Linked DNA regions of Homo sapiens. The protein of the gene in region 2 purifies or fractionates together with the protein of the main gene of each other region. This does not show direct contact. Each region holds a gene or a part of one and is shown on either strand. Other genes may lie near its edges. The genes, in order: TPM4, HACD1, ATP2B1 and MYO1B.

Evidence for each region.
Region 1: the proteins of HACD1 (region 2) and TPM4 purify together in Homo sapiens (affinity purification with mass spectrometry; one large-scale study listed by BioGRID and IntAct). This does not show direct contact.
Region 3: the proteins of HACD1 (region 2) and ATP2B1 purify together in Homo sapiens (affinity purification with mass spectrometry; one large-scale study listed by BioGRID and IntAct). This does not show direct contact.
Region 4: the proteins of HACD1 (region 2) and MYO1B purify together in Homo sapiens (affinity purification with mass spectrometry; one large-scale study listed by BioGRID and IntAct). This does not show direct contact.

What each region holds. Positions count from the first base shown.
Region 1 is NC_000019.10:16,080,610-16,087,990, forward strand, and holds part of TPM4 (tropomyosin alpha-4 chain), read left to right. Parts: intron 1-305; exon of another isoform or gene 306-343; coding exon of another isoform or gene 344-466; intron 467-1,303; coding exon 1,304-1,437; intron 1,438-5,813; coding exon 5,814-5,931; intron 5,932-7,381. UniProt on the Homo sapiens protein: Binds to actin filaments in muscle and non-muscle cells. Plays a central role, in association with the troponin complex, in the calcium dependent regulation of vertebrate striated muscle contraction.
Region 2 is NC_000010.11:17,590,821-17,598,201, reverse strand, and holds part of HACD1 (very-long-chain (3R)-3-hydroxyacyl-CoA dehydratase 1), read left to right. Parts: intron 1-3,818; coding exon 3,819-3,997; intron 3,998-7,381.
Region 3 is NC_000012.12:89,704,642-89,712,765, reverse strand, and holds the start of ATP2B1 (plasma membrane calcium-transporting ATPase 1), read left to right. Parts: upstream 1-3,927; 5' UTR 3,928-4,170; exon of another isoform or gene 4,171-4,372; intron 4,373-4,618; exon of another isoform or gene 4,619-4,998; intron 4,999-8,124. UniProt on the Homo sapiens protein: Catalyzes the hydrolysis of ATP coupled with the transport of calcium from the cytoplasm to the extracellular space thereby maintaining intracellular calcium homeostasis.
Region 4 is NC_000002.12:191,378,836-191,386,216, forward strand, and holds part of MYO1B (unconventional myosin-Ib), read left to right. Parts: intron 1-2,626; coding exon 2,627-2,731; intron 2,732-4,444; coding exon 4,445-4,507; intron 4,508-7,048; coding exon 7,049-7,249; intron 7,250-7,381. UniProt on the Homo sapiens protein: Motor protein that may participate in process critical to neuronal development and function such as cell migration, neurite outgrowth and vesicular transport.

The DNA.
Region 1 (7,381 bases), on a different chromosome or scaffold from region 2:
AGACCAGCCTGACCAACAAGACGAAACCCTGTCTCTACTAAAAATACAAAAAAATAGCAAGGCGTGGTGGTGTCCGTCTGTAATCCCAGCTACTCAGGAGGCTGAGGCAGAATTGCTTGAACCCGGGAGGTAGAAGTTGCAGCAAGCCGAGATCATGCCATTGCACTCCAGCCTTGGTGACGGCGCAAGACTCCATCTCAAAAAAAAAATTAAAAAGAAAATGACAAAGCGGGGATTCCAGCCCAGCACTTTTTGGCCCTGGAGTTCCTGGTTTAATGCTTCCCATTGTACTTCCTTTCTTGTAGGTAAAAACACCTTGAAAAGCCAATAACACTATTGGGGTATGTCTTCCATGCCTGCAACCAAGTTTTCTTTCCCTTTCCATATCTTTTTGTCCTGCCATCTCTCAGCCAGGCGGATTGAAGGATGGAATTCCAACGAGGCTCCCCCGCCTCGTCCCACCTTGGTAATTGCATGGCCAACATTTAACTGAGGGCTCCATAGTCTTGCATTTATCTTGCCATTCAGGTGAATGGGAGCGGAACTCACAGGACACAATGAGCCGGGTCACTGATGGCCTTGCTTTCTAAGAATCTCACAGTGAGCCCTAGAACTCTCTACGTGGTAACACTGTGTGCCTTTTTCAGAGAAGAGCCTATCTTAGATCTTAGCCTAACGTTGGGTCTATTGTGTTGCTGGAGAGACCAGCACTGACATTCATCTCAAAGCACATGGTATGTTTGACTCCTATGTTGACTCAACTACCCATCTTGTACTGGGACACTCGCTTTTTTTTTTTTTTTTTGAGACGGAGTCTTGCTCTGTCACCAGGCTGGAGTGCAGTGGCACGATCTCAGCTCACGGCAACCTCCGCCTCCCGGGTTCAAGTGATTCTTCTGCCTCAGCCTCCTGAGCATGTGGAACTACAGGCACGTGCCACCACACTCAGCTAATTTTTCTATTTTTAGTAGAGACAGGGTTTCACCACGTTGGCCAGGATGGTCTCGATCTCTTGACCTTGTGATACACCCACCTCAGCCTCCCAAAGTGCTGGGATTACAGGCATGAGCCACCACGCTTGGCGATGCTCATCTTTTGCTATGGAGTGGTAGATGTTTTTCCCAGACATTTTCCGGGAAGATCATACTGAAATTTTGGTATGAGTGTAAATTCCCTATGGCCTGGACTCCTGGGTGGGCTTTGACGGGGAAGATCAGGTTAACAGAGGGCAGGACATGGGGGAGGCTCCCACTGGTGGCTGGCCTGATACTTCTTAACATGGCTGCACCTCCGACCTCCCCAGGCTGAAGGTGATGTGGCCGCCCTCAACCGACGCATCCAGCTCGTTGAGGAGGAGTTGGACAGGGCTCAGGAACGACTGGCCACGGCCCTGCAGAAGCTGGAGGAGGCAGAAAAAGCTGCAGATGAGAGTGAGAGGTAAGGACGCTTTGAATCTGGTGGCATCCGTGTTTGCTTTTAGAAAATGGGGATCATGCTGCCGACCTCGCAGAGCTGGTGTGAAAGTAAACAAGGTCACAAGGACATGCATGTGTCCACAAAAAAGTGCATGACAGCACTTTGTAAACCATCACTCCATGGGTAGAGATGTTTATCCGTGGCCAGGCACGGTGGCTCATGCCTGTAATCCCAGCACTTTGGGAGGCCAAGGCGGACGGATCACCTGAGGTTGGGAGTTTGAGACCAGCCTGGCCAACATGGTGAAACCCCGTCTTTCCTAAAAGTACAAAAAAATTAGCCTGCCATGGTGGCGGGCACCTGTAATCCCAGCTACTCAGGAGGCTGAGGCAAGAGAATCTCTTGAACCCAGGAGGCAGAGGCTGCAGTGAGCCGAGATCGTGCCATTGCACTCCAGCCTGGGCAACAAGAGCAAAACTCCATCTCAAAATAAAGTGAGGGGTGTTTATCCTTACGGTAACCATGAAAAGAAACTTCCGACAGACAGAAAGGCAAACAGAACGGGCAGATGTGAGACTGCAAGTATGACTGTCCATGGTGGTCAGTTTGCAAAGCACTGCTTCTCGTATTTTCTCTGAAAGCCACAGTGCCTCTTAGTGTTCTCTAGACACCAAATTTCAGGTAGGCCGGATGCAGTGATTCCTGCCTGTGCTCCCAGCACTTTGGGAGGCAGAGGCGGGCAAATCGCCTGAGCTCAGGAGTTCAAGACCAACTGGGGCAATGTGGTGAGACCCTGTCTCTACAAAAAATACAAAAATTAGCCGGGTGTGGTGGTGCACGCCTGTACTCCTGGCTACTCAAGAGGCTGAGGTGGGAGGATCACTTGACCCCAAGAGTTTGAAGCTGCAGTGAGGCAAGATTGTGCCACTGCACTCCAGCCTCAGTGACAGATGAGATTCTGTCTCAAAAAAAAAAAAAAAAAAAAAAAAGCAGAGTACTGTGGAGAGGAGGAAAGGAAACTTGGGATGCACAGGTGATTGTTAGCAGAGCTGTCAGGCTTTAGGCTTTTGGACGGTGACAGCTATTTCAGGGACAGTTGCAAACCAGCATGGTTAATGTACTTGCAACTGACCATGCACCAGGTGCCGTGGCTCACGCCTATAATCCCAGCACTTTGCGATGACGAGGCGGGTGGATCAACTGAGGTCAGGTGTTTGAGACCAGACTGGCCAACATGGTGAAACCCCGTCTCTATTAAAAATACACAAATTAGCTGGGCGTGGTGGCGGGCACCTGTAATCCCACCTACTCAGGAGGCTAAGGCAAGATCCCCCAGCTTGAACCCAGGAGGCAGAGGGTGCAGTGAGCCAAGATCGCACCACTGCACTCCAGCCTGGGCAACAGAGTGAGACTCTGTCTCAAAAAGAAACTGACCACGTTCCTCACCCGCCCATGGTATCTGTGCTGCAACCCAGCCACCAGTAGGGTGCCTTCTCCTCGGTAGCCAGATCATTCTCTGGCACGCCTTGGCACAGGCTCTCTGGAAGACTGAGGGTAGATTGTGTAATTCACAGAAGCAGCAGTCTGTGTGTGGTGGAAAAGGAGTTCCTTGTGTGGCAATGGTGTGGGCCCGACCAGTGATCATCGCGTCTGCCCCTCATTCACACCGGAGTTCTCACTTGAGCCAGCCACCATGCTTTTGCAGTATAAACACCTCCCAAAGATTCATTTCTTTTTTTTTTTTTTTTTTTGAGACAGGGTCTTACTCTATCACCCAGGCTGGAATGTAGTGGTGCGATCACAGCTCACTGCAGCCTCGACCTCCTGGGCTCAAGCGATCCTCCCGCCACGGCCTCCAGAGTTCCAGAGTAAAGCTGGGACTACAGGCGCATGCCATCATGCCCAGCTAATTTTTTTTTGAGACAGAGTCTCGCTCTGTCGCCCAGGCTGGAGTGCACTGGCGTGATCTCAGCTCACTACAAGCTTCACCTCCTGGGTTCACGACATTCTCCTGCCTCAGCCTCCCAAGTAGCTGGGACTACAGGCACCCGCCACCACACCCGGCTAATTTTTTTGTATTTTTAGTAGAGACAGGGTTTCACCGTGTTAGCCACGATGTTCTCAAGCTCCTGACCTTGTAATCCACCTGCCTTGGCCTCCCAAAGTGCTGGCACGCCTAGCTAATTTAAGATGCATTTCTGGTTGTGCTGCTGTGACCACTAACCAGAGATTAGAAACCAGCTAAGGAATCTTGGAGATTGCATGTCACCCAAGCTGGAAATTTCTTCCCAAGTAGTGGAACAGCCAGGGCAGAGGGAACAGACGCTACTGCAGACTCTGCTTCAGCCACTGAATCAAGGGAGAGAGTGGCAGCTCCGGCAGCCACGGGGCAGTGGAAGGACCCAGTCACGAGAGTTCCTGGCTGTGCCTGTGGCCTGGGTTAGCTGCTGTTCACAGTCAGACCAGCCTGGCTGGATGCTGACGTTGAGGGCTCCCATATTGGCAAACCAAGGGAGGCTGCGAAGGCCAGTCTCTTGTTTGCACCATGTCCCCAGAGGCCTTTGGTGACACCCCTGTTAAAGACTGCTGTGTCTCAGTAGAAAGAATTATATACTTGAAGCTTGGGGATCTAGAGTCAGCTTCTACCACTGGCACTTTCTATGGAGCCTTAGGCAAGTCACTTTGATCTCTTGGGTACTACAAGGGGTTTTGGGGCAATAAATAACCCAGAGAGCTTGCTCACATGCTGAGGGTGAGACCTCGTACAGGTGGGGGAGGGTGTTTTGAGACTTAGCTGAGAACGGGTGACACCCCACGTGAACATATTTATTGGACAGCAAGAAGCATATGGTCTCTGTGCTGGGTGGGAATGATACATATCAATGACACATTATCCCAGGCTGGCCTCTTCTTTTCTTTTCTTTTCTTGTTTTAAATACACAAGGTCTTGGCAGGGTGCGGTGGCTCACACCTGTAATCCCAGCCCTTTGGGAGGCGGGCGGATCGCTTGAGCCCAGGAGTTTGAGACCAGCCTGCGCAACATAGTGAGACCCCATCTCTACAAAAAAATATTAAAAATTAGCCAGGCATGGTAGTGCATGCTGGTAGTCCCAGCCACTCAAGGGACTGAGGTGGGAGAATCACCTGATCCCAGGAAGGCAAGGTTGCAGTGAGCTATGATTACACCACTACACTCCAGCCTGGGCAACAGAGTGAGAACCTGTCTCAAGAAAAAAAATAAATAAATACACAACGTCTTGCTCTGTCACCCAGGCTGGAGAGCAGTGGTGCAATCACGACTCACCGCAGCCTTGAACTCCTGGGCTCAAGCGATCCTCCTACCTCAGCAACATTGCAAAACCCCCACCTCCACAAAAAATTTTTTTTTAGTTTAGCTGGGTGCAGTGGTGCACACCTATAGTCCCAGCTACTCAGGAGGCCGAGGCAACAGGATTGCTTGAGCCTGAGAGGACAAGGCTGCCGTGAGCTCTCAGGGCACCACTGCACTCCAACCTGGGCAACAGAGTGAGACACCATCTCTCAAAATAAAAGAAAAAGAAAGGGGGCACAGACTCTGGAGTCAGACTGCCAAGGGCTGAGCCTCAGCTCTACCACTTACCAGCTCTGTAACCTTAAGTTACTTACCCTCTCTCTATGCCTTAGTTTCTTCATTTGTAAAATGTGGATAATTTACCTGCTCCATAGGGCAGTTGTGAAAGTGAAGGCACTTAGAAAAGTGCCTGGTAGTAAAGATGAAGGGAGGCTGGGCGCGGTGGCTCACACCTGTAATCCCAGCACTCTGGGAGGTCAAGGCGGGCAGATCACTTGAGGTCAGGAGTTCCAGACCAGCCTGGCCAACATGGCGAAACCCCCTCTCTACTAAAAATATAAAAGTTAGCCGGTCACGGTGGTGCATGCCTATAGTCCCGGCTATGCTGGAGGCTGAGACAGGAGAATTGCTTGAACCCAGGAGATGGAGGCTGCAGTGAGCTGAGATCACACTACTGCACTCCAGCCTGGGTGACAGAGCGAGACTCCATCTCAAAAAAAAAAAAAAAAACCAAGATGAAGGAAATGTGTGCACAGAGTTCCATCTTTGCAGTGTGTTACAGTGCTCAGTAGATTCAGAGACTCATTTAGATGAGAGATGGGACTAGGGGTGGTGTCTCACGCAATTAGCCAGACATGGTGACGGGTGCCTGTAATTCCAGCTACTCAGGAGGCTGAGGCAGGAGAATCGCTTGAACCCGGGAGGTGGAGGTTGCAGTGAGCTGAGATCGTGCCACTGCACTCCAGCCTGGATGACAGAGCGAGACTCCATCTGAAAGAAAAGATAGATGAGAGGTGGGTGGAGGGGTGTGAGTGAACGGCCGTCCTGATGAGATTGCTCCTTGCAGAGGAATGAAGGTGATAGAAAACCGGGCCATGAAGGATGAGGAGAAGATGGAGATTCAGGAGATGCAGCTCAAAGAGGCCAAGCACATTGCGGAAGAGGCTGACCGCAAATACGAGGAGGTGAGTGGGGCTGGCAGATGGCGCAGCAGCAGGAAGTGGGAGGAAATGCATCTGCTGAGATAGGGAGGACACCGGGGCCAACGAAAGGAAGCTCTCGGTTAGGTCAGCTGTCCTCCTGCGTGAACATATGTTTGTCCAGAGACAACCACTTGGCTAGGAAACTATCTCCCACGATGCCAGAAAGTGCTGCGGACGCTTGTCTAACGTAATGGGAAAACCGAATGATCAGCTCACTTGTGTCGTTAGCTGGGAGTTTTGGCACAGTTGGGCAAAAATGGAGGATTGTGGTCCCAAGCCATGGAGTTTCAGACCATGCAAGCTCAGGCCCTCCTTTGCCTCCCTCGATGGCTCGGCTCTTCCCTCCCGCCTCTTGTCTGCCTCGCTCCTCAGGCTTGAGGAAGAGAATCAGGATTTCCTCCAGGCCCCAGGATGGCTCTTTCAGTTGAAGCGCCAGCAAAAGGCCAGGCGCGGTGGCTCGTACCTGTAACCCCAGCACTTCGACCGAGGCGGGAGGATCACCTGAGGCCAGGAGTTTGAGACCAGCCTGGGCAACATAGTGAGACCCCATTTCTAAAAATAATAATAATAATAATTAGCTGGGTGTGGTGGCATGCACCTGTAGTCCCAGCTACTTGGGAGGCTGAGGCAGGAGGATCGCTTGAACCTGGGAAGTCAAGGCTGCAGTGAGCTCTGACCACGCCACTGCACTCCAGCCTTGGAGACAGAGCAAGACCCTCTGTCAAAAACATAAAAGGGCTGGGCATGGTGGCTCACGCCGGTAATCCCAGCACTTTGGGAGGCCAAGGCAGGCAGATCACCTGAGGTCAGGAGTTCATGACCAGCCTGGCCAACGTGGTGAAACCCTGTCTCTACAAAAAATACAAAAATTAGCCGGGCATGGTCGTGCATGCCTGTAAGCCCAGCTATTTGGAAGGCTGAGACAGGAGATTCACTTGAACCCAGGAGGCAGAGGTTGCAGTGAGTCAAGGTTGAGCCACTGCATTTCAGCCTGGGTGATGGAGCGAGACTCTGTCTCAAAAGAATAAAAAAATAAAAAAGAGGCCAGGTGTGGTGGCTCATGCCTATAATCCCAGCACTCTGGGAGGCCGAGGTAGGTGGATCAGGAGGTCAGGAATTCGAGACCAGCCTGGCCACTACGGTGAAACCCCATCTCGACTGAAAATACAAAAATTAGCTGGGCGTGGTGGCACGCGCCTGTAGTCCCAGCTACTTGGAAGGCTGAGGCAGGAGAATCGCTTGAACCCAGGAGGTGGAGGTTGCAGTGAGCCGAGACTGTGCCACTGCACTCCAGCCTGGGCAACAGAGGGAGACTCCGTCCCCCTGCAAAAAAAAGAAACACCAGAAAAACCCATGTTGCAGCTGGTCTAGGGGTCTGGGTGGGGCATCATTGGGGGCTGTCTGCAGTGGATGGGAGAGGACACGGCTGGTG
Region 2 (7,381 bases):
TTCAATATCCACCACCTGGGCTCAAGCGATTCTCCTGCCTCAGCCTCCCAAGTAGCTGGGAGTACAGGTGCAGGCCACCACACCTGGCTAATTTTTGTATTTTTTGTAGAGATGGGGTTTTACCATGTTGCCCAGGCTGGTCTCGAACACCTGAGCTCAAGTGATCCACCCACCTCGGCCTCCCTAAGTGCTAGGATTACAGGTGTGAGCCACTGCGCCTGGCCATGTTATATACTCTTTGTGACTTTTTAATATTCTCTAGCTCTTTTTTAGACACTTGCGGCTTACCACTTTGTATATGATGAGATACTTTGAAATTATAATTTGAGCTTAAGTGTCTTGTCTGTCATAAGAAGGTTGTACTACCATTTATATGGATTTGGTTGGTTTTAATCTTACTGTACATGAAAATGTGTTTACCTTTAGTGACTGAGCTTTTTAAAGGTTGGCAGTTTTGAATGTAGCTGGACTCTAATCCTAGAACACATCAATATCATTTCGCATGACAATGTTCTGGACCTCTGGCACCTTTGAAAATACTAACTTACCATATAGTCTCTTTTCATGTGCTGAATTTACAAAATTTGTCTGAAGAGGATAGCAGAATGTACATTGCATATTTTCCTGAGGTTGGCACATTAGACTTGATGGCTTTGTGTGTCTGTCTTTTGGAATGCATTTGCATGTCTTGAGTGTCTGGAAAAGATAAAAACTCTGCCATCGTATGTTTAAATTTGCTGTTTAGAAAGTGTTTATCCATTGCAGGCTGGGCGTGGTGGCTCATGCCTGTAATCCCAACACTTTGGGAGGCCAAGGTGGGCGGATCACTTGAGGTCAGGAGTTCCAGATCAGCCTGGCCAACATGGTGAAACCCCATCTCTACTAAAAAATTAAAAAATTAGCCACATGTGCCTGTAATCCCAGCTACTTGGGAGGCCGAGGCAGGAGAATTGCTTGAACTAGGAGGTGGAGGTTGCAGTGATCTGAGATCACACCACTGCACTCCAGCTTGGTGACACAGCGTGACTCTGTCTCAAAAGAAGAAAGTGTTTATCCATTGCCTTAATGTTAAACAAGTTATACAGTCTTTCAGCTTTGAAATCATATGTTACATAATACTTTGTCAGTTGATCATAATCATAAATAATTATGTTTCATGTCAAAAAGATCTTAAAAATCCCAGCCATCTAAATATGTTTCCCAACTCCATTAAGTAAGGTAAAATAATATTTGTATTTATGTTCAGATGTTGAAGCTGTCATTCTCGAATAAAACTACACTTTAGAAATGGCTTCTTAGTTATAAGTAGTTTGGCCTATTGTTACAGTTTGAATATACTTTGATTCTATTTATGTGTCATAAGTGTTCTTGGAAAAGTCCTCAGAATAGGTAATTGTATATATTAAGTTAGGTTTTTCATATTGATTTAAAATGCACTCCCTTCAAAAAAATTTTAGATAGTAATTGGGAACCTTCAAAGAAGCATTGTATCTTTTTTTTTAATGTGGTCTATCCATAGTTAAATCTCCCATACTGCCCTCAGAACTTAGAGAAGTAGTAACATGCAATCTTTTTGAAGTGCAAGTAAAGTCAAATTATATAATTTGTTCCCATTTCATTAGAAATTTTCATTGCCCTTAAGACTTTCAACTAGCTTATTGTAGGAGTGTTAATTTTTTCTTCTATTGAAGAACAATCCTGCCAAAAAAAAAAAAAATCTTTTGAAAACCACATAAAGTAAAAATTGCAACTTAATCAGTTTGGGTATTTTACTGAGACAGGTATATAAAATGTCCAGTTATGGGATTTAATAAATTGAGGAATAGGGAAAGATTGATTTAAATGATACACAAATAACTACCCAAAACTGGTAAGAAAGCAGGGAGTTTCTCCAAGGCCAAGAAGGGATTAACAGGTACAGTGAAGGAATCATTCTTCTTTCTTGAATAGCTCATCTATTTTGGCAAATAATTCTGCCCTTCTCCCCATCTCTTATCTTCGCATATCCTTGACATACAGGAATAATGCAATTTTTAATTTGTCTCCAAGCTTCTTCAATACTGACAACTTTGACTTTTCTTTATAGATATTTCCTAATGCCAACAAAATGATTAAATAAAATACAGATTAATTTGATTTCTTTTTCCATCAAAATGTTGACCTTTTGTTTTAAATTAAAAACATTTTTCTTTTTTTAAATTAAATTTATTTTTTTTGAGACAGGGTCTCGCTGTGTCACCCAGGCTGGAGTACAGTGGTGCGGTCTTGGCTCACTGCCCCCTTGACCTCCTAGGCTCAAGCAATCCTCCTGCCTTAGCCTCCCAAGTAGCTGGGGCGACAGGCATGCACCACTGTGGTCTGCTCATTAAATTTTTTTTTGTGAGACGGGGTCTTACTATATCGCCCAGAGTGGTCTTGCACTCTGGCCTCTTAAGTTTTCTGTGGTAACTGTTATATAGTGACTGAGTCAGAGAAAAATGATTTTTTTTTTTAATGAAGAAATATGATCATCTTGGATCCTTTAGGCCCCTCTTATTGGAGACCAGCCAGTAGAACACAGAGTGTTTCCTAATTGGAAGCATACAGGATGCCTGGCCTACTGTGTGTTCCAGACCTTGCCACAGACCAAATGAACACATGATGACTTTGGATTTAGAGTAGAACTTTCTTAACTCTACTTTAAACAAGCTCACTCTTCTTTTAATGTGGGAATTCAGGAACTAACTTGTCAATTTATTTTGTTACGGTAGCAGTTTTAGACAATATAATATACTCATTAGTAGCTACTCATGCTTCAGGTGGTATTATCAGTTTTCTGCAATAATTGGTTTTCATTAGTAACCACAAAGACTTTTTCAAATGCCTCTTAAAAATAACTACCTTGGTAATTTCAAGGTTTAGATATAAAATTTAGGATAATCACTGGTCTTTTTAAACGCAGTGTTTGATCAATAAATTACTAGCTGCCGCGGACAAAAGCAGTCATTTGTGATTTTATGCACCAAAGAAGTTACCATTACAATACTTTTTTTAAAGCTACATAGGCCGGGCATGGTGGCTCATGTCTGTAATCCCAGCACTTTGGGAGGCTGAGGCGGGTGGATCACCTGAAGGCAGGAGTTCAAGACCAGCCTGACCAACATGGTGAAACCCTGTCTCTACTAAAAATACAAAAATTAACCGGGCGTGGTGGCGGGCGCCTGTAGTCCCAGCTACCCAGGAGGCTGAGGCAGGAGAATTGCTTGAACCCGGGAGGTGGAGGTTGCAGTGACCCAAGATTGTGCCACTGCACTCCAGTCTAGGCGACAGAGTAAGACTCCATCTCAAAAAAAAACAAAAAACAAAAAAAAAAAACACCAAAAATTAGCTGGGTATGGTGGCACACACCTGTAATCCCAGCTACTTGGGAGGCTGAGGCAGGAGAATTACTTGAACCCAGGAGGTGGAGGTTGCAGTGAGCCAAGACTGTGCCGCTGCACTCCAGCCTGGTGACAAGAGCGAACTCCATCTCAAAACAAAAACAAGAAAAACTACATATACATTTTTTAATACATAAAAGTATTTTGGTACTCTAAAATAAGTTGATACTATTTTATTAAAAAGACATTGCCTATTATGGAAACTGGTATTAGGAAAAAAAGGATGATAATCAATAAGCAAATGATTAAAGTAGAACTATTAACCTTACGTAAGGTTATTGTAAATATGTAAAGAAAAGAGAATTTTGAAGTTTAAATTTAGTAGTAGCAATAGACCTGCAATGTAAAGTCTAATAATTATTGTAGAAAAATAATTCTCTGAGGTTTTTCTTTCTCCAGATATAATTTTTTTATCATCTTATATCCTGTTGGAGTTGCTGGTGAACTTCTTACAATATACGCTGCCTTGCCGCATGTGAAGAAAACAGGAATGTTTTCAATAAGACTTCCTAACAAATACAATGTCTCTTTTGACTACTATTATTTTCTTCTTATAACCATGGCATCATATATACCTTGTAAGTATATACTTATTAGTACTTTGATTTGACATATGATGTGGAAATTTTTGAAAGGATATAATAATATGCAAGGGGAAATAATTAGAAATAATTGCTTACAAATACATTAAAACTTCGGTTTAACTCCATATTTACTGATAATTTGGGAAAAGTGAAGGGAGATAGAGGCAGAAGACAGTTCATTAGCTATGAGAATAAAGGCAGGTAAATTAACGCATGGATTATTGCTTTCTCAAAATCATTTAAACATCAGCTTAGTATGATTTTTTTAAAGAAAGATAAAAACAAATCATGTTTAAAGCATTAGTGCACTTTTTACAAGCATTTAGAATTATATGTCTGAGTATAAACACTGTGTCCAAGAAAATTTCAGATCATTTCTATCTATTCATTAAGCATATACTTGGAAAAATCATCTAGGAGTAGTTTTGAGTCTTATTTGTGTTGCTCTATGTACTTGCAAATAATAAAGCCTCTTTTCTTAAAGGATTTTGAATAAGTCAGCCTCTTCACTAATTTCTCATCATCTTTCAGCAGTTGAAGTGAATTGGTAAGGCTTTACTCCATTTCAGTGCTGCTAATAGTGAGGCAGGGCTCCGTGGCTCATGCCTATAATCCCAGCACTTTGGGAGGCCGAGGCAGGTGGATCACCTGAGGTCAGGAGTTCGAGACCAGGCTGGCCAACATGGCAAAACCCTGTCTCTACTAAAATACAGAAATTAACTGGGCATGGTGGCGCATGCCTGTAATCTCAGCTACTCAGGAGGCTGAGGCAGGAGAATCGTTTGAACCTGAGAGGCAGAAGTTGCAGTGAACTGACATGATGCCATTGCATTCCAGCCTGGGCAATAAGAGTGAGACTCTGTCTCAAAAAAAAAAAGGCGTGGGGGCTAATAGTGATATATTTTTAAGTCAAATATTGATAGCTCTAAAATCTACATCGACATGATACAAATTATTTCATCTAAAGGAGATGCGCATAAAACTTGGCCAGCCCCTTGAGGTCTCCAACTTTTTTTTGTTGTTTTTTTTGAGACAGAGTCTTGCGCTTTTGCCCAGGCTGGAGTGCAGTGGCGCCATCTCAGCTCACTCCAATCGCTGCCTCTCAGGTTCATGGGATTACAAGCGCCTGCCACAGTGCCCACCTAATTTTTGTATTTTTAGTAGAGACGAGGTTTCACCATATTGGCCAGGCTGGTCTCAAACTCCTGACCTCAAGGGATCCACCCACCTTGGTCTCCCAAAGTGCTGGGATTACAGGCATGAGCCCCTGCCCCCGGCAGATGTCTCCAACTTGTATCTTTCCCAAAGTCAAAATTGACTTAGTGGTGAAAGATATGTTTTCCCCTTGTCTTCTACCACTTCAGCCTGATTCTGTATCTGATTTTCTACCCCAGCCAGTTCGGGAGAGCTAAGGAGGGGATGCCTACTCTATTGGTTCACATCCCTCTCTTTTCCCAATGGCAGGTTAATGGTAGCATTACTTGAACAGAACCAGAGCTTGCTTCGGTGTCTGTCTGACAGTTACAGGTTCAAACAGTGGGTTCTCTTCCTCCTCATGGCTTTTGAGGCATCTCCATGGAAATGGAGAGCCTGAAGCACCTTTTTCAGTTGTCCTGGGAGATGTAGACTCTGGCCTGTACCAGTAGCAGCTTCCCAGTTCACCATGCTGCCAGCTACTGAGTCCCACTGGCCAGAGAATCACTCAGCCCAGAACATGTTTTCCACTGCATTTTTTTTTAATTCCCTCCTCCCCCTGCATTCTTAATGTTAGTAATAAATCAATTAATTTTACTTATTAAATCCTTTGCTAATTAAAAGTACTTTTTGAGTACTTAGTATTCAAAAGTAGTAGTATTATTTCTCATTTACATTAAGATGAAAGAGGTTAAGTGAGTTGCTTAAAAATCACTAGCTTGTGGCCTGGTGTGGTGGCTCACACCTGTAATCGCAGCACTTTGGGAGGCCAAGGTGGGAGGATTGCTTGAGGTCAGGAGTTCAAGACCAGCCTGACCACCATGGTGAAACCCCGTCTCTACTAAAAATACAAAAATTAGCCAGACATGGTAGTGGGCACCTGTAGTCCCAGCTACTCAGGAGGCTGATGCAGGAAAATCACTGAAACCGGGGAGGCAGAGGTTGCAGTGAGCCAAGATTACACCACTGCACTCCAGCCTGAGTGACAGAGTGAGACTCCATCTCAAAAAAAAAAAAAAAAAAAAAAATCAGTAGCTGGTGAGTTAAGGCAGGGTTTGAACTCAAGCCCATACCTTCTGTTCAGCTACTCGGAATTTTATGGAAGTATTTACAATAATTGGTCAGTGAGTTTAAGTAATTATGACCTGAGTAAATTTAGCCCCCTAGGTATATATAATGTGATGGTAACCTTTCTTAAGTTAGGAAGAACCTAAATAGAAAGACTTTTTATCCAAAGTTGCCTAAGCAGGATATTCAAAGCTTGTTTTGTGATAAGGTTCATTGGTTTGATTATTCTGATCATCATATTCAGAAATATTTTTACACTGGCATTGTTTATAGCTGATATTAATTTGTTTATCCACCAACATTTATACTATGAAACACTGGTTTGAAACACTGGTTCAAATTGGTTCAAAATATTCTTCAAATTTGACTGGACAGATGACAATTTGTCCAACTGACCTAATAACGTATGTATTTATGTGTTATTATATAATGGATTAAATACCCTTACACCCAGCCAGGAGGAGCTTCTGCTTTAGGCTCTGTTAAGAGGACCTTGCTGTAGCTCTTCTGTGGTCACTCCACACAGCACCCCACTGCCTTCTAGATCACATTCTAGAAACCTGAGACCATGGAATTTGCTACCCAGAGGGCAATGAGCATGCATCTGGGCCCTAACCAGGCTTCTTCGTTGATCCATGGTCCTGAGGGTTAACCATGTATCAGTATACGCACCCCTGAGAAAACAGGATAGCCAGGGGGCAGCTGTTTGTGAGGGGTATGGATGAAGCTTAGATGTATGCACCCGGGTATCCTCACACATGTGCAGGAGACCCCTTGCAGTACAGGATACAGCCAGTAGAATGGAGAAGAGGAGGCTGGGTGGGGCCAGTTTTCCCTGTGCTGGAATGTTCTGGCGCAGCATTCCAAAGAGTTCAGAATTCTAAACTCAAACATGGTCTTCCAGGTCATTATGAAGGTATTTTTATCAAGGTATTTAAGTTTGTTAAAAACAAGCAAAAATAGGCCGGGCGCAGTGGTTCATGCCTGTAATCCCAGCACTTTGGGAGGCCGAGGCAGGCGGATCACTTGAGGCCAGGAGTTCAAGACCAGGCTGACCAACCTGGTGAAATCCCATCTCTACTAAAAACAGAAAAATTAGTCAGGTGTGGTGGTGAT
Region 3 (8,124 bases), on a different chromosome or scaffold from region 2:
TGAGAACATATACAGCTATTTTAAATTAAGAATTTAATATCCTCCTTCTCTGCCTCCCTGTACTTATCAGTCCTCTTTAGGATTCTGTAATGATCAGGACTGATGCATTCACATATGTAAAATGTGTTTACGGGGAAAGAATATGTTTTTTAAAATACACTGCAGTTGATATGTCTTTATTTTGTCCTATTGCTAGATGCATGTGACAGAATAAAGTTCTTTGTTTCTCTTTACACTTAATTACATTGAGGATTTTAGAAAACTGTCTTCATGTGTTATATCTCTTGAATCGATCAACTTTTCAGCAAATATCTCAGTTGTTTAGATTTACTCTATGAAAAAGAGCATACCTTAAAAATACCAAATATATTATTTTGAATCTGCAGCCACTCTTCAATGTTAACATCTCATATGGTAACTTGTCATGGGGTTTAAATACTTTTTTGTTTTGTTTTGTTTCGTTTTGTTTTTGAGACTGAGACTCACTCTGTCGCCAGGCTGGAGTGCAGTGGTGCGATCTCGGCTCCCTGCAACCTTGGACTCCCTGGTTCAAGCGATTCTCCTGCCTCAGCCTCCTGAGTAGCTGGGATTACAGGCATGAGCCACCACGCCCAGCTAATTTTTGTATTTTTAGTAGAGACGGGGTTTCACCATGTTGGCCAGGATGGTCTCAATCTCCGGACCTCGTGATCTGCCCGCCTCAGTCTCCCGAAGTGCTGGGATTACAGACGTGAGCCACCGCACCTGACTGGATTTAAATACTTTTATAAGTTTTGCATTGTAGCTAAAATGCATATTAAAAGAACTTTAAAATATTATTTCCCCAGTAAATTGTATTATTATATTGTTCCTTATGCAAAGATACATCTCTAGATCAGTTAAACACATGGGATAAGTTAGGTCTAAGATTAAGAGAATACTGTTACATACAGTGGCATCTTTGATTTCAGATAGTTCAATTTTTTTTCAAGGAAACAGTAAGCAATGCAATATTTTCTTGATTTTTACATTGAAAAATATGTGTGAGGGATGCTTTAGTACTAAGCCTGTGGGAGAAAAAAATTGAATTTCTTAATGTAATGTGAACAGTTATTTCTATATTGCTTTCACCCTTTATTTCCTATTTGAAGAATAAAAATATAAAAACCAAACTACAGTACAATTTTCTTGACTATGACAGTAAAAGTTTGTCATTGCATATGACTCACATTTCATTAAAATGCATACAAATATGTTCCGGGATACACACACACACACGTTTTCATTTATGGATATACATGAATATATATATTCCGTATGTTTCATTTATAGATTTATCGATATAAATGAAAACTTAATTGAATCGTGTTCTTAAATAAAGATGCTCAATAATTGTTTCATGACCACAACACTTTAAGAGCATTCATTTTATAATCTGGAACTGGAACAAACCCACAAAGTGAACAGATTCTAGTTTATTACCCATTTTGCTAGTGTACTATAGCAATGATTCACATATTACTTTAATGTCAAATTCTTGATTAAAGTAGAATACATAATTCAACATTGTATTGTAACTTCCTTGGAGGAAAAGTTGGAAAAAAGCCAGTGATTCTTAAATGTCTCTGAGTCGTTTTGAAAGATATTTTAGGGGGAAATAATATTGAAATTTATTAGGTGAAATTTAGGTTATTCTTCTGTTAAAAAGATTTGAAATAGTGTCAGGAAGGGCTATTTATTGTACCACATTAACCAATTCTCCATCAGTGACTGAAGAGAGGAAAAATGCTATCATTCTGTTCAATGTTCGTTTATCTTACACATCAAGGGCACAGCTCAGAAGGCTGGTAATGTCAAGCCTAGTGAGATACATAAACTGATAAAAAAATTATTTGCAACAGCATTGATTTATATTTATTCACTTTTAAACGTCTTTTACACATTTTGTGTCTAATCTTTTAAAATATTTTAAAACAAATGCTATCATCAGATCGTGAACATAATACCATACTTCCTATTGCCTGTATGCTTTTGAGGAGGCTATATAAATATTAATTTTCCAGTTCTGGAATTAAGAGAAAGAAGATTGCAGAACTTATCTTTTTGTTCTGATTAACTGATACTGAAAATAACACTGACAAGGTCTCTGGGCCAGTGGCGACGGTGAGTTCAAATAAAGATTAGATGAAGATGAAGCGCGGTATCTTAGGTAAGATACACATCTTTACTGTGTATATGCGTGTACAAGAAGGAAAACTTGCTTTTTTTTTTTTAAGTAGATGTTACGAAGGATGGTTTTTTTTTTTTTTTCAACTTGCAAAATCTCTTGAAGGTTGGAGCAGAGCCGCCGGTTACCTTTGAGCATCGAAATACCGCAAGTTATCCCGTTTCCTTTTCCCCTCAGGAAAGATGGGTGCAGGGTTGAGATGTTACAAGAGAATTAAAAGAGAGCCACCAGCTTGGCATAGTAGAAGAAACAAACCCAAAATGAAAACACCCGGATTTTAAGCGCGGATCCTGCGAGGCCGGTTTGCACTGGCCGAACGCCTGCGTTAACCCTTTGGGCGCCGCAGCTGGGATCCCCGGTGTTTGCGGACCCGACCGGCAGGAACAGAGATGGAGTGTCCCGCGCCCGCATGGGGAGTGAGCTCTCTTCCCCAAAGAGGGAGCGAGCCGAGAAGCACTTTTTCCTCCGGTGCGTGCGTCACGGCCCGGGACAGGCGTCGAGTCCGGTTTGGAGTGGGGGCAGAGACGCGGCGAGGAGCCGCTCAAATGTCCGCTGACTGGGGGTTCGCCTTAATCTGTCCTCGCCAGGAGCGCTCGCCCTCGCCCTCCCGCTGGCTCGCTCCTGGGCCCTGGAGGGGCATGGGCCCGGGGGCGGTTCGGGAGGGGCCCCAGGTGAAGGGCGCCCGCACTTCTCCTGCGGCAATCATCGCTCTCCTGCCTCCACACGTCGCGGCAGCGGCCCGGCCCCGCGCCGAAACAGCAGCTGTGACTGACGGAGTCACCTCCCCGCGCGCCTGGCCACCCCCTCCTCCCCCGCCGCTCCCTCCTGCACCAACACGTCATGGAAACACGGACGTCAGAGCCTCTCAGCCAATCGCAGGCTGCGGCAGGAGGGAAGGGGCGCGCTGGAGGGGGCGGGGGCAGCGGCAAGCCAAGGCGCTCAGGGGAAGGAAGAAAGGGAGGGGCGTGCGGAGGCGCAAGTCCCCACCTCCGCCCCTCACTCCGGCCACCCTTTCCCGACCGCGCGGCAAGTTCTAATCGCCAGGCGCGCGCTCGCCAGCCGAGGGCGCGCTCGCCGGGTCCTCCCCTTAAACGCCCTCCCAGTGCCGCTCAGCTCCCAGTCCCGGTCCGAGCCGCGGTTCCTCCGCGCGCGCGCGCGCGCACTCGCCCGCCCCCAGGCTCCCCGCGGATCGCGTCACGTGACCGCGCTCAGCCAAGGCGGCAGCGGCGGCGGCGCGAGCTTCGGCGGCGGTGGCGGCTGTGGCAGCGGGAGCAGCTGCGCCGCCAGCGTGGAGCGGGAGGCGTGTGGGTGTGGAGAAAAGGGAGCGCCAGACCGGAACGGGTGAGCGTTCTCCTCCCCCTGCCTACCCCGGCAATCTTGCAGGCCACCCGGTGCAGACGGGGTCCCTGCCCGGAGCTGCGCGCAGCCCCCTCGTGCTCGGCCGTCCGCTCTCCGGTGCCCGCGGGCCCCGCCCCGAGTGGGGCGGGCTGCGGCGCTCACGGAGGTGGCTGCACCCCGCCCGCGGCTGCTGTTGCGGACGGCGGCGTGAGGCCGGCTGAGCTGCCCGTGCCGAGCGAGCGCGGCGCGCCCTGTGTGCCGCTCTGCGGAGCCGAGGAGGCGGGTCCTGCGGGGACGCGGGCGGCCACTCGGTGGCTGCCGGGCTCTGGGCGGGGACGGCCGGGCGCCGCCTCCTCCTCCTTCGCTGCCGCCGCCGCCTCCTCGCAGTGCAGCGTGAGTAGGGAGCCCCGGCTGGTGGACGCCGAGCCTCTCGGCTCCTTGGCCGCCCCATCCCCGAGGTGCAGCTGCACCTCCGCGTGGCGCCCCGAGCCCTGCGAGCCGGCTGCGGACGCGCTGAGGACGGAGCCCCCATCCTCTGCGTTTCCCGCTGCCCCTTAACGCCCCGCGACCCTCCCGCAGCCTGCCTTTCCTTCCCCCTCGGAAAATGGTTCCCACTGCCGGGCGAGGTGAGTGGCGGCCGCCGCCCGCCCGCGGCCGGGGGCGGCGGGGCAGGTCACCTGCGGGGGAGGCCAGGCGGAGCACGGAGGTCGGGCGTCGCGGCGGGGATCCTGATAGCTGGGTGCGCAGCGGGTTGCGCCGGATTCGGGAGAAGCTGACGGGGGCGGTCGGGGCCCCTCGCAGGTTGCCTCTTGCCGGGAGATTGTGAAGGTGAGCGGGCTTCTCGCCGTGCACCTCAGCGCCGGGTCAGTCTGGGAGTCGCTGCTCCGGGCCCGAGGGATGGGGCTTGTTGGGGCTTCTGGTCTACACCCGCAGGTCTTCGGCTTCACGAAGCCGCCTCGGCCGCGCCACAGCCCATCCCGCCACCGGTCGCCCCCGCCACGGCGCGTGGTGACCTTGAGGGCACCGTGCCCGGCACTCCCTCTCCCCGCGCCCCGGGAGGGTCACCCCTCTAATCCTTGGCCTCGGCCCCCCAGACGCACTGCGGGAGGGGAGCGGGGGCCCCTGGTCGGCCCCTGGCCCTGGTGGTTGATTGTTGGCGTGTCAGGACGGTGATTCCTCGGGAGTTGGAGAGCCGCCTGGTCTTTCTCCTCACGCCTTCCGTCTGGCCCCCCAGGATGTTCACAGTTGTTTCCGATTCGTGTTTATTCACTTAGTTTAAGAGAAAAAAGCCTGCGCCCCCACCTCCCTTTTTGAGGAAGGAGTCTGTAGGAGGACCGCGTTCCAGTGGCAGGGGTGTGGGGTGGGGGCTGTGCTCTCTTTATCCCATCCTGCGGGAGAATCCTGTGGCTAAGCTGGTTAGCGACCCCTGGTTCTGCGCCGCGGTCACCAGCCAGGTTGGTCTCTGTGCGCATTTCATTCACCAGTTTTCTGCGGGACTCGCAGCGCTGGGAGTGCTCGCACCCTGTGCGCTGCTTGGCTCGGAGGGGAGGGCAGGGCGTCCGGGTGGGTTAAAGGGGTCTGCAGGTACTTGGAGGGCTCGACCCTCCTCGACAGGCTGATATTTACCTTTTCTTTGGGTTAGAGCGCTGCAGACAGCCACCTTTCGCTTCTGTGCCCGCTACTTTTCTTGGTTTATTAATAATCTAATGGCTTCTGTTGGTATCGATTGCTGTTCGTGATAAATTAGCTACATAGATTTTTTTCATACGTGTGTAGGTATATGCATATATCTGAACTTGTCTGCCTGTCAACATGGAAGCCTTTGTTGTGTTTAACCTCCCCCACCTGAGGACAGTCTTATTTTAAAATAAGGCTTTTGTTCAGCGTGGGTGTATTTTATAATAAGAAGTACTTGTAAGGGCCTGGTTTGTATGAGGCTCTCATCTGGCAGAGGGTGTGTAACCCTTTGGATGGTGGCCCACGTGAGTGAATGGAGGGCCTTCACCACTTGCCCCGATGCCAGCCTTCCCGAGACTCCCTGTCCTTGTGTGTGGCAGGGGTGGATTGGGGGAATTAAGAGGGATTGGAGGAGAATCTGCTTTTTGTACTTGTGCGTTTCATTTGGGTCCTCCTCCTCCCCTCTCTTTTTCTTTATCCTCCTGGTGAGTTCAAATTTGAAGTAAATAGAAACATTTTTTTTTTAATTGGGAACCTTTGATAGCTAGTATATGAAATGGGCTTATTTAGCTATGATTTCAGGAGGACGTTTTAGTTTTTACCTTGCTTTAGATAAGACAGCTAAATTGCTGTAATTAAGGGTGGATCTCTGTCCTGATTTTGGCTTGGGTGTAACTGCAAAGATCTTTGAAAAGTAACTGTTAATTTCCTACCATATAGTCTGCAAAAGTGAGTCACATTCGGGTGAGTTGAGGACAGAGCGCCACCTTTAATTTAAAATTTCGTGATTTTCTTTTATTAAAATGGTGAAAATTCGGGGTACGCCTTCTTGATTTTTATCGCAGCTGTCATTATTGGCATCCCCATTTTGACGTGTAAGGGGGAATTGTCTTCATTTTTCTGTATTCTCTCATTTCTCTTTTGAGAGAAATTTCTGCAATTGTATGGGAAATCTTTTTTTTATTGAAGCTTGGGATTTTAGCATTCTGAGATGAGATGAGAAACTAGTTTTGATTTGTGTTTATAATAATATTGATGGTCTGGATATTCTTGGTAAAAGAAGGAAAGTAATAGCTGCTTTTAATAGGTGGTTTGAACTAGCCATTGCCACCAAATAAAGGTACCTACCAGTATGACAGTGGCTTTACAATTTTTTTTTTTTTTTTAGCTGTAGGCCTATTAACAGATTCTAAAATAAACACGCAGGATCAGATATAGTAATTCTTTTTTGTTGTCTTCCAACAACTTACCTTTTGTGATTTTACTGTTTTACAGTTGCTTGTTCTTAAATAATATAGATGAACACTTCGAGCAGGTGTACTTATATTCAAAGTTTAATAAAGACCATGTTAGAAAAAGTGGTTTGTATACATGGCTCCTCTCAGGTGCATCTCATGTAAAAATAAATGGAGATTTTAATACTTAGAAAAGAGTTACTGTAGTGACAGTTGAGATTTCTTTCCCTTCCCTTCCTTCCCAAATCATAAGTATAAGGAACACTGTCTCTTTAGGCACAGCCTCCTTTTTTGATGTAACATGAGAAAAGGGATTTAGCTCCCAAGTAATGAATTAAGATGTGGATATTATTACATATAGTCTTACTTACAAACCGCAAAATATTACTGCCCTTCTATCTGCATTTAAGGTTTCATTCAACACTTGCAATTTCTCTATAGACAATGTAAAGCATTGGCTATTGAGCTGTAGATAAGTCTTTATTAAACTAAAATTAGCCAAAAACTCTGAGATGAAAGGTGTTTTATCCCCTTACTGCTATGTGTTCTCTGTCGAACTATGGAATATGGCCCCGGGATAAAGGACATTATTTGAGCTATTAGATTGTTGCATGTAGAGTAATTATATGTTGTTATATATACTTTCATAGATTCCTTGATTTCAGAGTAAGATTTACTAATTTCCTTTGACTGACAGACATGTTAACTTCATTTCAGATGCAACAGTCTCTTACCATGGGAAATGAGTTTTAAAAGGAACGGCCACTTATAACTATTGGTCTTCTGTAATATTGAACAAAATAATATTTGGTTTTTTTCCCTTACATTTTACACATGAATACAGTAAAATTGATGTTTTCACTTTTTTATTCTGGAATTTTGTAATGGATGAGCAAAAAACAATAAAAGGACTGAGGATCAGAAAGCAGAAACAAACATTTAGGTTTTTGCATCTCGGGCAAGAGTATTGACCAGATGGAAGGGAATAATTATTTTCTAGTAGCTGTCATGATATGTAATAAAGGTACTAATAGTAGCTTATTTGGGACTAGGTGGAATCTGAGGTGACATTGCCAGGAAAATAACATACAATGGTTATGGGAATAATTTTCATAAAGATAAATAACTTTAAAAAATTCACTTTTTAGCTTTTAGAAATGTTATCTATACATACCACATATATTGTTGTCTTGTTAAAATTTTTTATTATAGAAATTATCAAACATAGGAAAGTAGAGAGAATGATATACTTACTGGCCAGTTTTGACAATTACCAACTCTCGTGGTCCATCACATTTCATTTATATCTTAACACAAGAAATGGTTCTGTTATAAATGGGGACATAGGACAGGTAATCGAATCGAATTTTTGTATTTGTATTTTTCAGAATACGGTATACTCAATAGTGTCCAATATCTAATTAAATCTGAATGGTCAGTTTTTATGTTCTTCGTTGATTCTTTAGTGGCATATACATTTTAATTTTTCTGGTGGTAGTTTGTGTATTTTACAGCAGGTGCCCAAAGATAGTGTCTCTCAAATTTTGCTGTCTTCAGAAATCACAGGTATTATTATTAACTACTTTACAGTTTTCAGAATGTATTTACATATGACCTCATTTGATTCTCACAATAATCCTGTGTGGTGAGTAAGGCAGACAATTGTAC
Region 4 (7,381 bases), on a different chromosome or scaffold from region 2:
TTTGGGATAAGGGGTGATATTGTGGGGTTGTTAGAAGGAGCATTTGTCATATAGAATTACTGGTGATAGCCTGGATGGCATGTTTTCTTTTTCCTGATAATTTATAATTAGAAGCATTGGATTTTGAAGCTTTAAAGCTTCAGGCAAGTTATATGATGTATCATTATTTCAGTCAAACTGTTTTTATCCTGAAGAACCCTCCCCTAGCAAACCACAGTTCAGACACCACAGGAAGGTATTGTGGTCCTGTCTTTTGAATTGACTGGATATGGGTCTTGATCCAAAGTTTTACACTGATCAAAAATACAGCCTGAATGGTAAAAGCCATCATTTGTAACCATGAATAACTATCAATACATGCTCACTTTTAGAAGTTTATTGCTAATTAAGAACTGACTGCATTTTGTGTAATTTGTCCCTTTTTGCACCAGAATGCAGTAAGTATGACCTGTTTGCAGTGCTGGTCTGTTGCATGCTCTTGTGTTAATAGCTTCTCTAGCTGTGTGAGTTTTGCAGTAAGTGGTTGTTGAATAACCATGTGGATATAAAATACAGAATCCATACAGGAATTTTTAAAGGTTATGGGCAAATTTAATTTAGTTGTAACTTAATCCTTAAATTGTTTTGTAATTGTGAAGCTTTGCCTCTGGTTTCTAATCTGCTTGTGTGTATTTCATGGTCCTGTTTTAGAAGTGTACTTTGAGCTGTTCATAGCTACACAATGTGTCTGAGGACACTAGTGCTTTCCTTTCCTTCTCATTATTTGCTGTTTGATGATTTAGCATAATAGGGTTGAAATAGCTCCATGGGCACAGACTTGCCAGATAACACATTTGTTCCATGAGACTGTTGTCTAAAAAAAAAGTCAAAGATCTGCTCTTATAAGTTATTAATGTTTTACTTTTACTTATAGGTTTTATTTATAGTTGCATCATATAGGGACATACTTTAGCAAAGCAATTGAGACTTTCTGATATATGGAATGCCTTTATGCTGAGTATAATAATAATAAGGCATCTATACTAGACCAACTTCAGTTTCTAATTGAAATTGTTAGCTCTGCGAATTTGAGCACAGGGTTTTAAAAAATTTGTGTGAAAATGAGGACTGAGGAGTGCCCTTTGTATCTGACTATATTTGTCAAAATTATTGAAAATAAATGTTTGCCTTTTAGTAAGACTCTTCAAGACATAAAACAAACAAACTTTTATCCTTAACTAAGTTTAGCATTAACAAGATAAGTCACTGACAATATATTCACATGTGTTATTTATGAGTTTGAGTTTAAAATTTCCTCTGATCACTGCATCACTGGTGATTAGAAATTCCTAGCTGACTTCCAGGAAAGAATGTAGTTAGATGCTGCAGCATAAGTATCATTTTTAAGTTTTCCTAAGTAAGACCAAAGTTGATTTTTAAAGATCAACTTTCAGAAGACTCTGTGACTTTTTCACTTCTATCATGTATGGAGGGATTTGAAGGCCAGTGGCTCTGCCTGTTCACAAGGAGCAGTGAGCTTTGGCTGCACCATTACATGTGGGCTCTCCTTCCTCATTAGACCAGGACTGGCCACCATTGTGGGAGAAGAGTCCAGTTTACCAGTGGTGGAGTCATACTATCCCTCGCTCCCACTGCCACCATCTTTGGGCGATAAAGAAAAATAGAGGTGAAAACAAGTTTTAGTGTCAGATCTACTTCTTCCTGGACGATGTGGTTCTTGATAAATTTATTCATTTGGTGCTCTCAGGATGTACAGCAATACATTAAGCCCTGCAGATTGTTCAGAAATGATTTAGGCATAAAGCTTCTGTCAACAAATTCATAAGAGATTAATATGAAGGAGAGGCTGCTGAGACTTCTAAGAGTGATCAAGGGTATGGGCCTTCTACAGAGAGAGAGATTGTTTCTTGTCAGGGAGATGCTTTAATCTTTGGGTCTCCATTTGGTAGGAACTTCATTTGTTCATACAGTCAGCCAATACATATTGAGAACTTGCTAGGTGTGAGGTGCTGTGTAAGGGGTAGGAATACAGTGAACAAGAGAGCATGGTCAGCCCTCACCCATAAGAATGTACAGTCTAGTGAGGCAGATGTATATGAAACTAATCTGTACATGTGTATACTTACACATACACACATGTTCGTATAACATGATTTACAAAAAGGGTTAGGATGCAAGAGTCAGAGTGAGGGATCTGTCCCTGGATGGGGACAATAAGGGGTCAGTTCAGGGGGACTTCCTTGAGCTCTGAAGTTTCACCTGAGAATGGGAGATTCAGAACTTGGTGACAGAGATTGTGGAGCTCACTGTGTCTTTGCTGATCCTTCAGCAAAGGAAGTGAGATTGTTTCTAGCTTTTCTGTTTGGGGTGCTTCTCTGTCAACTAAAAGTCTTCATCCTTCAAATATTGCATCATTTGTGTATACTTCATTCATTCACTTACTCATGACCCACTCCTCGAGTGCCTGCAATGGGCAAGCGTCTGTCCTAGGAGCCGTGTGCTGGGCCACAGTTAAATCTGAGAGATCATGTGTGGCATTTCTCATGGATTGAGATGTCTGAGTGTCATTGTTTTGAGAGAGCTAGTGGCATGGTTTATAAAGCTGTTTTTCATTTTCTCCATACAGGACAACAGCTTTGAGCAGTTCATTATTAATTATTGTAACGAAAAGCTGCAACAAATCTTCATTGAACTTACTCTTAAAGAAGAGCAGGAGGAGTATATACGGGAGGTAATGTTGAAATGCTATTTTTAAAAGTGTTGGTCCTTTTTTACTCGTAATATAAATTCTAATTCAGAAGATAGCCTAAACAAGAAGCCATATTCAAAAGGCTACATACTGTATGATTCCATCTGTCATTCTAGAAGAGGCAAAGCTATAGAGACTGATTACCTATAAGAAGCTATAGAGTCAGGGATTGCCAGGAGATAGGAGTTGTGAGAGGGTTGTGGCTGCAAAGAGAATTTTGGGGACTGATAATGGTGGTGGTTGCTTGACATTATACATTTGCCAAAACTTAGAGAACTGTATACCAAAAAAGTCAGCATCACTGTAAGTAGATTTGAAAATATTTTGAGACTTTGTTCAATATCAAAAAGTATTGAGTATTCAAATTTATAGTAAAAATAGGTAACAGTTACTGAGTCCTTACTACATAGCAGGTATTATATTAAGTGCTATGTATAGATTATCTCATTTAATATAATCTTAAAATAACCAGAAGTAGTGTTTGCAGAGTCTTTTCATCATTAATTTAAAAATATATATTTGCTTTTCACCCTTTTATTTTTTAAAATAGCCAGTCTTTTTTCAAGTGTAAAATTAGTTATTTCAAAAAATAAAAAGGAATTGTTATGTTTATATTTTTATTTCCTTTTTTGTTTATTTGCCTTAATATTTTAGTAATGATATTACCTGTTTTCCTTTATTTTCTTAGTATCATTTTAAGCCATTAAGGACACTGAATTCTCTTTTATCTTTCTTTCCATATAGATTTTTCTAATGTGATTGTTATCCCCAGTGGCTTAGTAAAACAACCCATTTACTCAAAAGCTAAATCATAAATATTTCATCTTTATTTTAGAGTACTCATTATGCTTCAGAAATGTTTTATACTTGTCTGGCACCTTTTAGTAACATAAATATTCTAAAAGCACGATTCATTCTTTTCCTGTCTTCTCATCATGAAGAGAATGCCCAAACTTTGATGGGTAACTTAAAACAGTTTATACAGATTGTTTAAAACACTTCTAAGAATATATAGGAAGATTGCTAGCTTGCTGTAATGAATAGAAGACAAATAAATGTTTACATTTATGGACAGAATGTTAAGTAGACACAGAAAGATTACATTTGGCTTTATGGATTTGGCTTTGTAGCCAGTGTTAGAACCAGTGGATAGATTTTCATGTCTTTCCTTATGTTGAAAATACTTTGTGGTAGCGCTGGCCTGTTTTTTTTAACACTTGAAAGAGTTAACTTCCCTACAACACAAGATTGACTCTAAAATTAATTTTTTTCCTTATGATTACAGATTCAGAACAGAAGAATCTAGGCTTTAAATTCTTGGGATCAAGTTCTAACTTATTTCCTTATAAACATTGTAAACATACACAACGTAATATTGACCCAAGGGCCTGTTGAGTAAATATTTGGCCCAGGGCCAGTGAAGTGCATGGGAAATTGCTGCAGATGGGAGAGTGGAATGGAAGGCAGTCTCAGAACAGGTCAAGGGTGTTTGCTTCAATCAGATTATGTCAGTGGTAGGCAGCTGCATTGAGAAAGTTTTGGGAACTGCCTGTGACATTTGCAGTACCCATTCTATAAAGAAAATAAATTCAGAGAGGAAGGGAAATATGATAAGATGGTCAAAGTCTGTTTTATGGATGGTAGTGTCGTGGCTTCATCTTGTGTCATTGGATTTTGTTCTGTTTTGTCTTTTAGGATATAGAATGGACTCACATTGACTACTTCAATAATGCTATCATTTGTGACCTAATAGAAAATGTGAGTACTTAGGTACAGTTTTCTAAAGAATGTTTTAGTCCTATAATTCACCCTTATAAATGTTCTCAGTGCCTCAATGTTAAGCATTAGTATTTTCACTGTTTTTTATATATATATATATATATATATATACACACACACATATATATGTGTATATATATATATATACACGTACACACACACACACACACACACACACACACACATATATATATATGTTAAGGAACTGCAGAGTTCTAGAGATTTTATTGTAGCCCTAAGAGATCATACACAGTTCTTGAACACATACATAGACAGCTGGATGTTTTGATACTTAGCCAGGATCCCCAGTGGCCATATCACAACACCCTTTTATGACCTTCAGACACCAGGCCTTAAAGGTACCAGCCTTTCTTGTATGGTTGGAGCCCAGGTCTATTCCATGACTCCTGGGCATGTGAGTACTGATCAGAGTAGGCTCTGAGCAGCCATCCAGTTTTTTGCCAAATCAAAATATCCATTTCATTCCCAAAACTCTAATGACCTCTTAACATACTATTCACCGGGTATTATATTAAGTTTAAGTGACATAAAGGGACAACCTCTGGAGCTGAATTAAGTGGGACCCCAGAAGTGGCTTAAGTGCAGCTGTAGCATTGATTCAGATCATACATGCAGAGGGCATTGCATGTGTGACTGCAGGTGGCCAGGGACCTGGAATTTTTCGGATGACCCAAGTATGTGCATATGCAAAAAGGCTTAAAGTGTGAAAAATTATTGGATAATTTCGAGTAAGCTTTCTGAGTCCAAGATTTTTGTTTTTAGATCATATTCCGTAGTTTATTGTAAATGAATTAAATGTAGGAAGACTGATTTTGTGTGTGGAAAACAGGAAACTAATTTATGCTTAGGATTACTAATACCTGACTTTGAATAAGTAATTTGAAACAGTGTATAAGCCTTATTATCCTGCAGTCTTTTTAGCAAGACCAGTTTAGTGAGATGAGTGCTGTGTTTCAGGAATACAGTCACATGCTCTGAATGAATATTAAATCATTTTCTACTCATCTTTTACAAAGCTTTTTGGGAAATATGTAATTAGCCAGTATTTTTTTTCCTCAGTATTCAAGATATTCCTAAAAGTTGTTTCTCTGATTAAATTAAACAATATTCTAAGGCATCACTATTTTTCAATAAGAAATAAACTGTGTTTCAAAAAATCTGAACAATATTGAATGGGAACACTAATATTCCACATAAGCAATTCAGATCTCTGATTTTGGCTCTGAAAAGTGAATTTCCTGAAAATTTTCCTGGTACATTTTGTGAAGGAGGTAATTTGCTATGGGAATCTTAATTTTCAGAATTTCTGATTAGTATGTTTTCTTTGATAAATATAACCTTGCATTTAATTATTCTCTTTTAAGAAGAGGAGAAAAAGAACAGTGGTAATACACTTAATTTAACTAGATTATCTCAGCCAAAAATCCCCTTGCTATATGATTGAAGAAGCTCATGTTCACATAGGAACCTGGGTATATAAAGGAAATGTTTCCTTCCAGCATCATTAAACAATAATGTTTGTTCTGGGGATGTTATGAACACACTTGATTCCTGAGAGTCCACGCTTCCCCAGGGTTTTGTGTGGAATGAATAAATGCTGGTCAGAGGATGTCGTGGCCTTGTTAGCAGAAGGGGAGAGGAACAGAGGACTTTGCCTGGGTGGAAGTAGGTGGGGTTGATGGTCAGTGGAGTGGATTGTTTTTGGAATTAAGACTTATGACCCCATAGGGGCAGTCCATGGAGTAGCAGTCTTTATTTAGCAAAGTAGAAGCTTCCTGACTTCTGATTCAGTTTAGGGCTGACTACTCTTGGAATAAAAATGACCACAGGGTCTAGATATGCAACAAATAAATTTTCACTTATGTTTAACATCCATTTAGAAATTCCACATGAATTTCTAAAATCTAAATCTATATGAAACAGATATTCTTGAAATCAGTTTGATTGCAGTGATTGTTAAAAGCAGCATCTCAAATCACAGCATTTTTTTCTAGGAAATAAACTTTATTTTGAACACATGAACAATTTGGAAACATAGAAAACGAGTTTCCTTCTTAGGAGTGAATCAAATAATGGCCTTAGAAGACTGCTTTGTGATTTGAGACATGTTATAGAGGCTGTATTGTCACATTCATTTCTGCTTTTAGATTTCTTTTTGAATCTTTGAGGTCCAACTTGTCTTTTTGTAAGAGTATAAATTTCAGTCATCATCAGGCTAAGGTGTCTGAGGCAACTCCCAGGTACTGTTGTTCTGTGCGAGGAGAGAGGAACCAAGAAGACACACTCTTCCCAACCACACCACCATACACACACCTGGGATCCTTCAGGAAAGAGCTGATTCCTGTGGCTTTTGTTATTGTTTTGAGTCTCTGCTTTTTGTTATAACTGAACAGACTTTTCTTGTGACTAAGTTGATTGTGTTTGATGGTGTAATTAGGAATAATTATTAAAACAATATAGTGAGGAAGGAAGGAAACTTTTTTATTTCCGTTTTCCCAGAACACAAATGGAATCCTGGCCATGCTGGATGAAGAGTGCCTCAGACCTGGCACAGTCACTGATGAGACCTTCTTAGAAAAGCTGAACCAAGTATGTGCCACCCACCAGCATTTTGAGAGCAGGATGAGCAAGTGCTCTCGGTTCCTCAATGACACGTCTCTGCCTCACAGCTGCTTCAGGATCCAGCATTATGCTGGAAAGGTATGGGGGAGCTGTGAGCACCCAGTCAGGCCTGCCAAGTTACCCCTGCAAGGAGGCTGTACCTCAGAGATGGGCGTTCGAAACCCCATTAACTTGTGAGGACAAATTGAGCTGCTAAAGTGGTTGAATCGA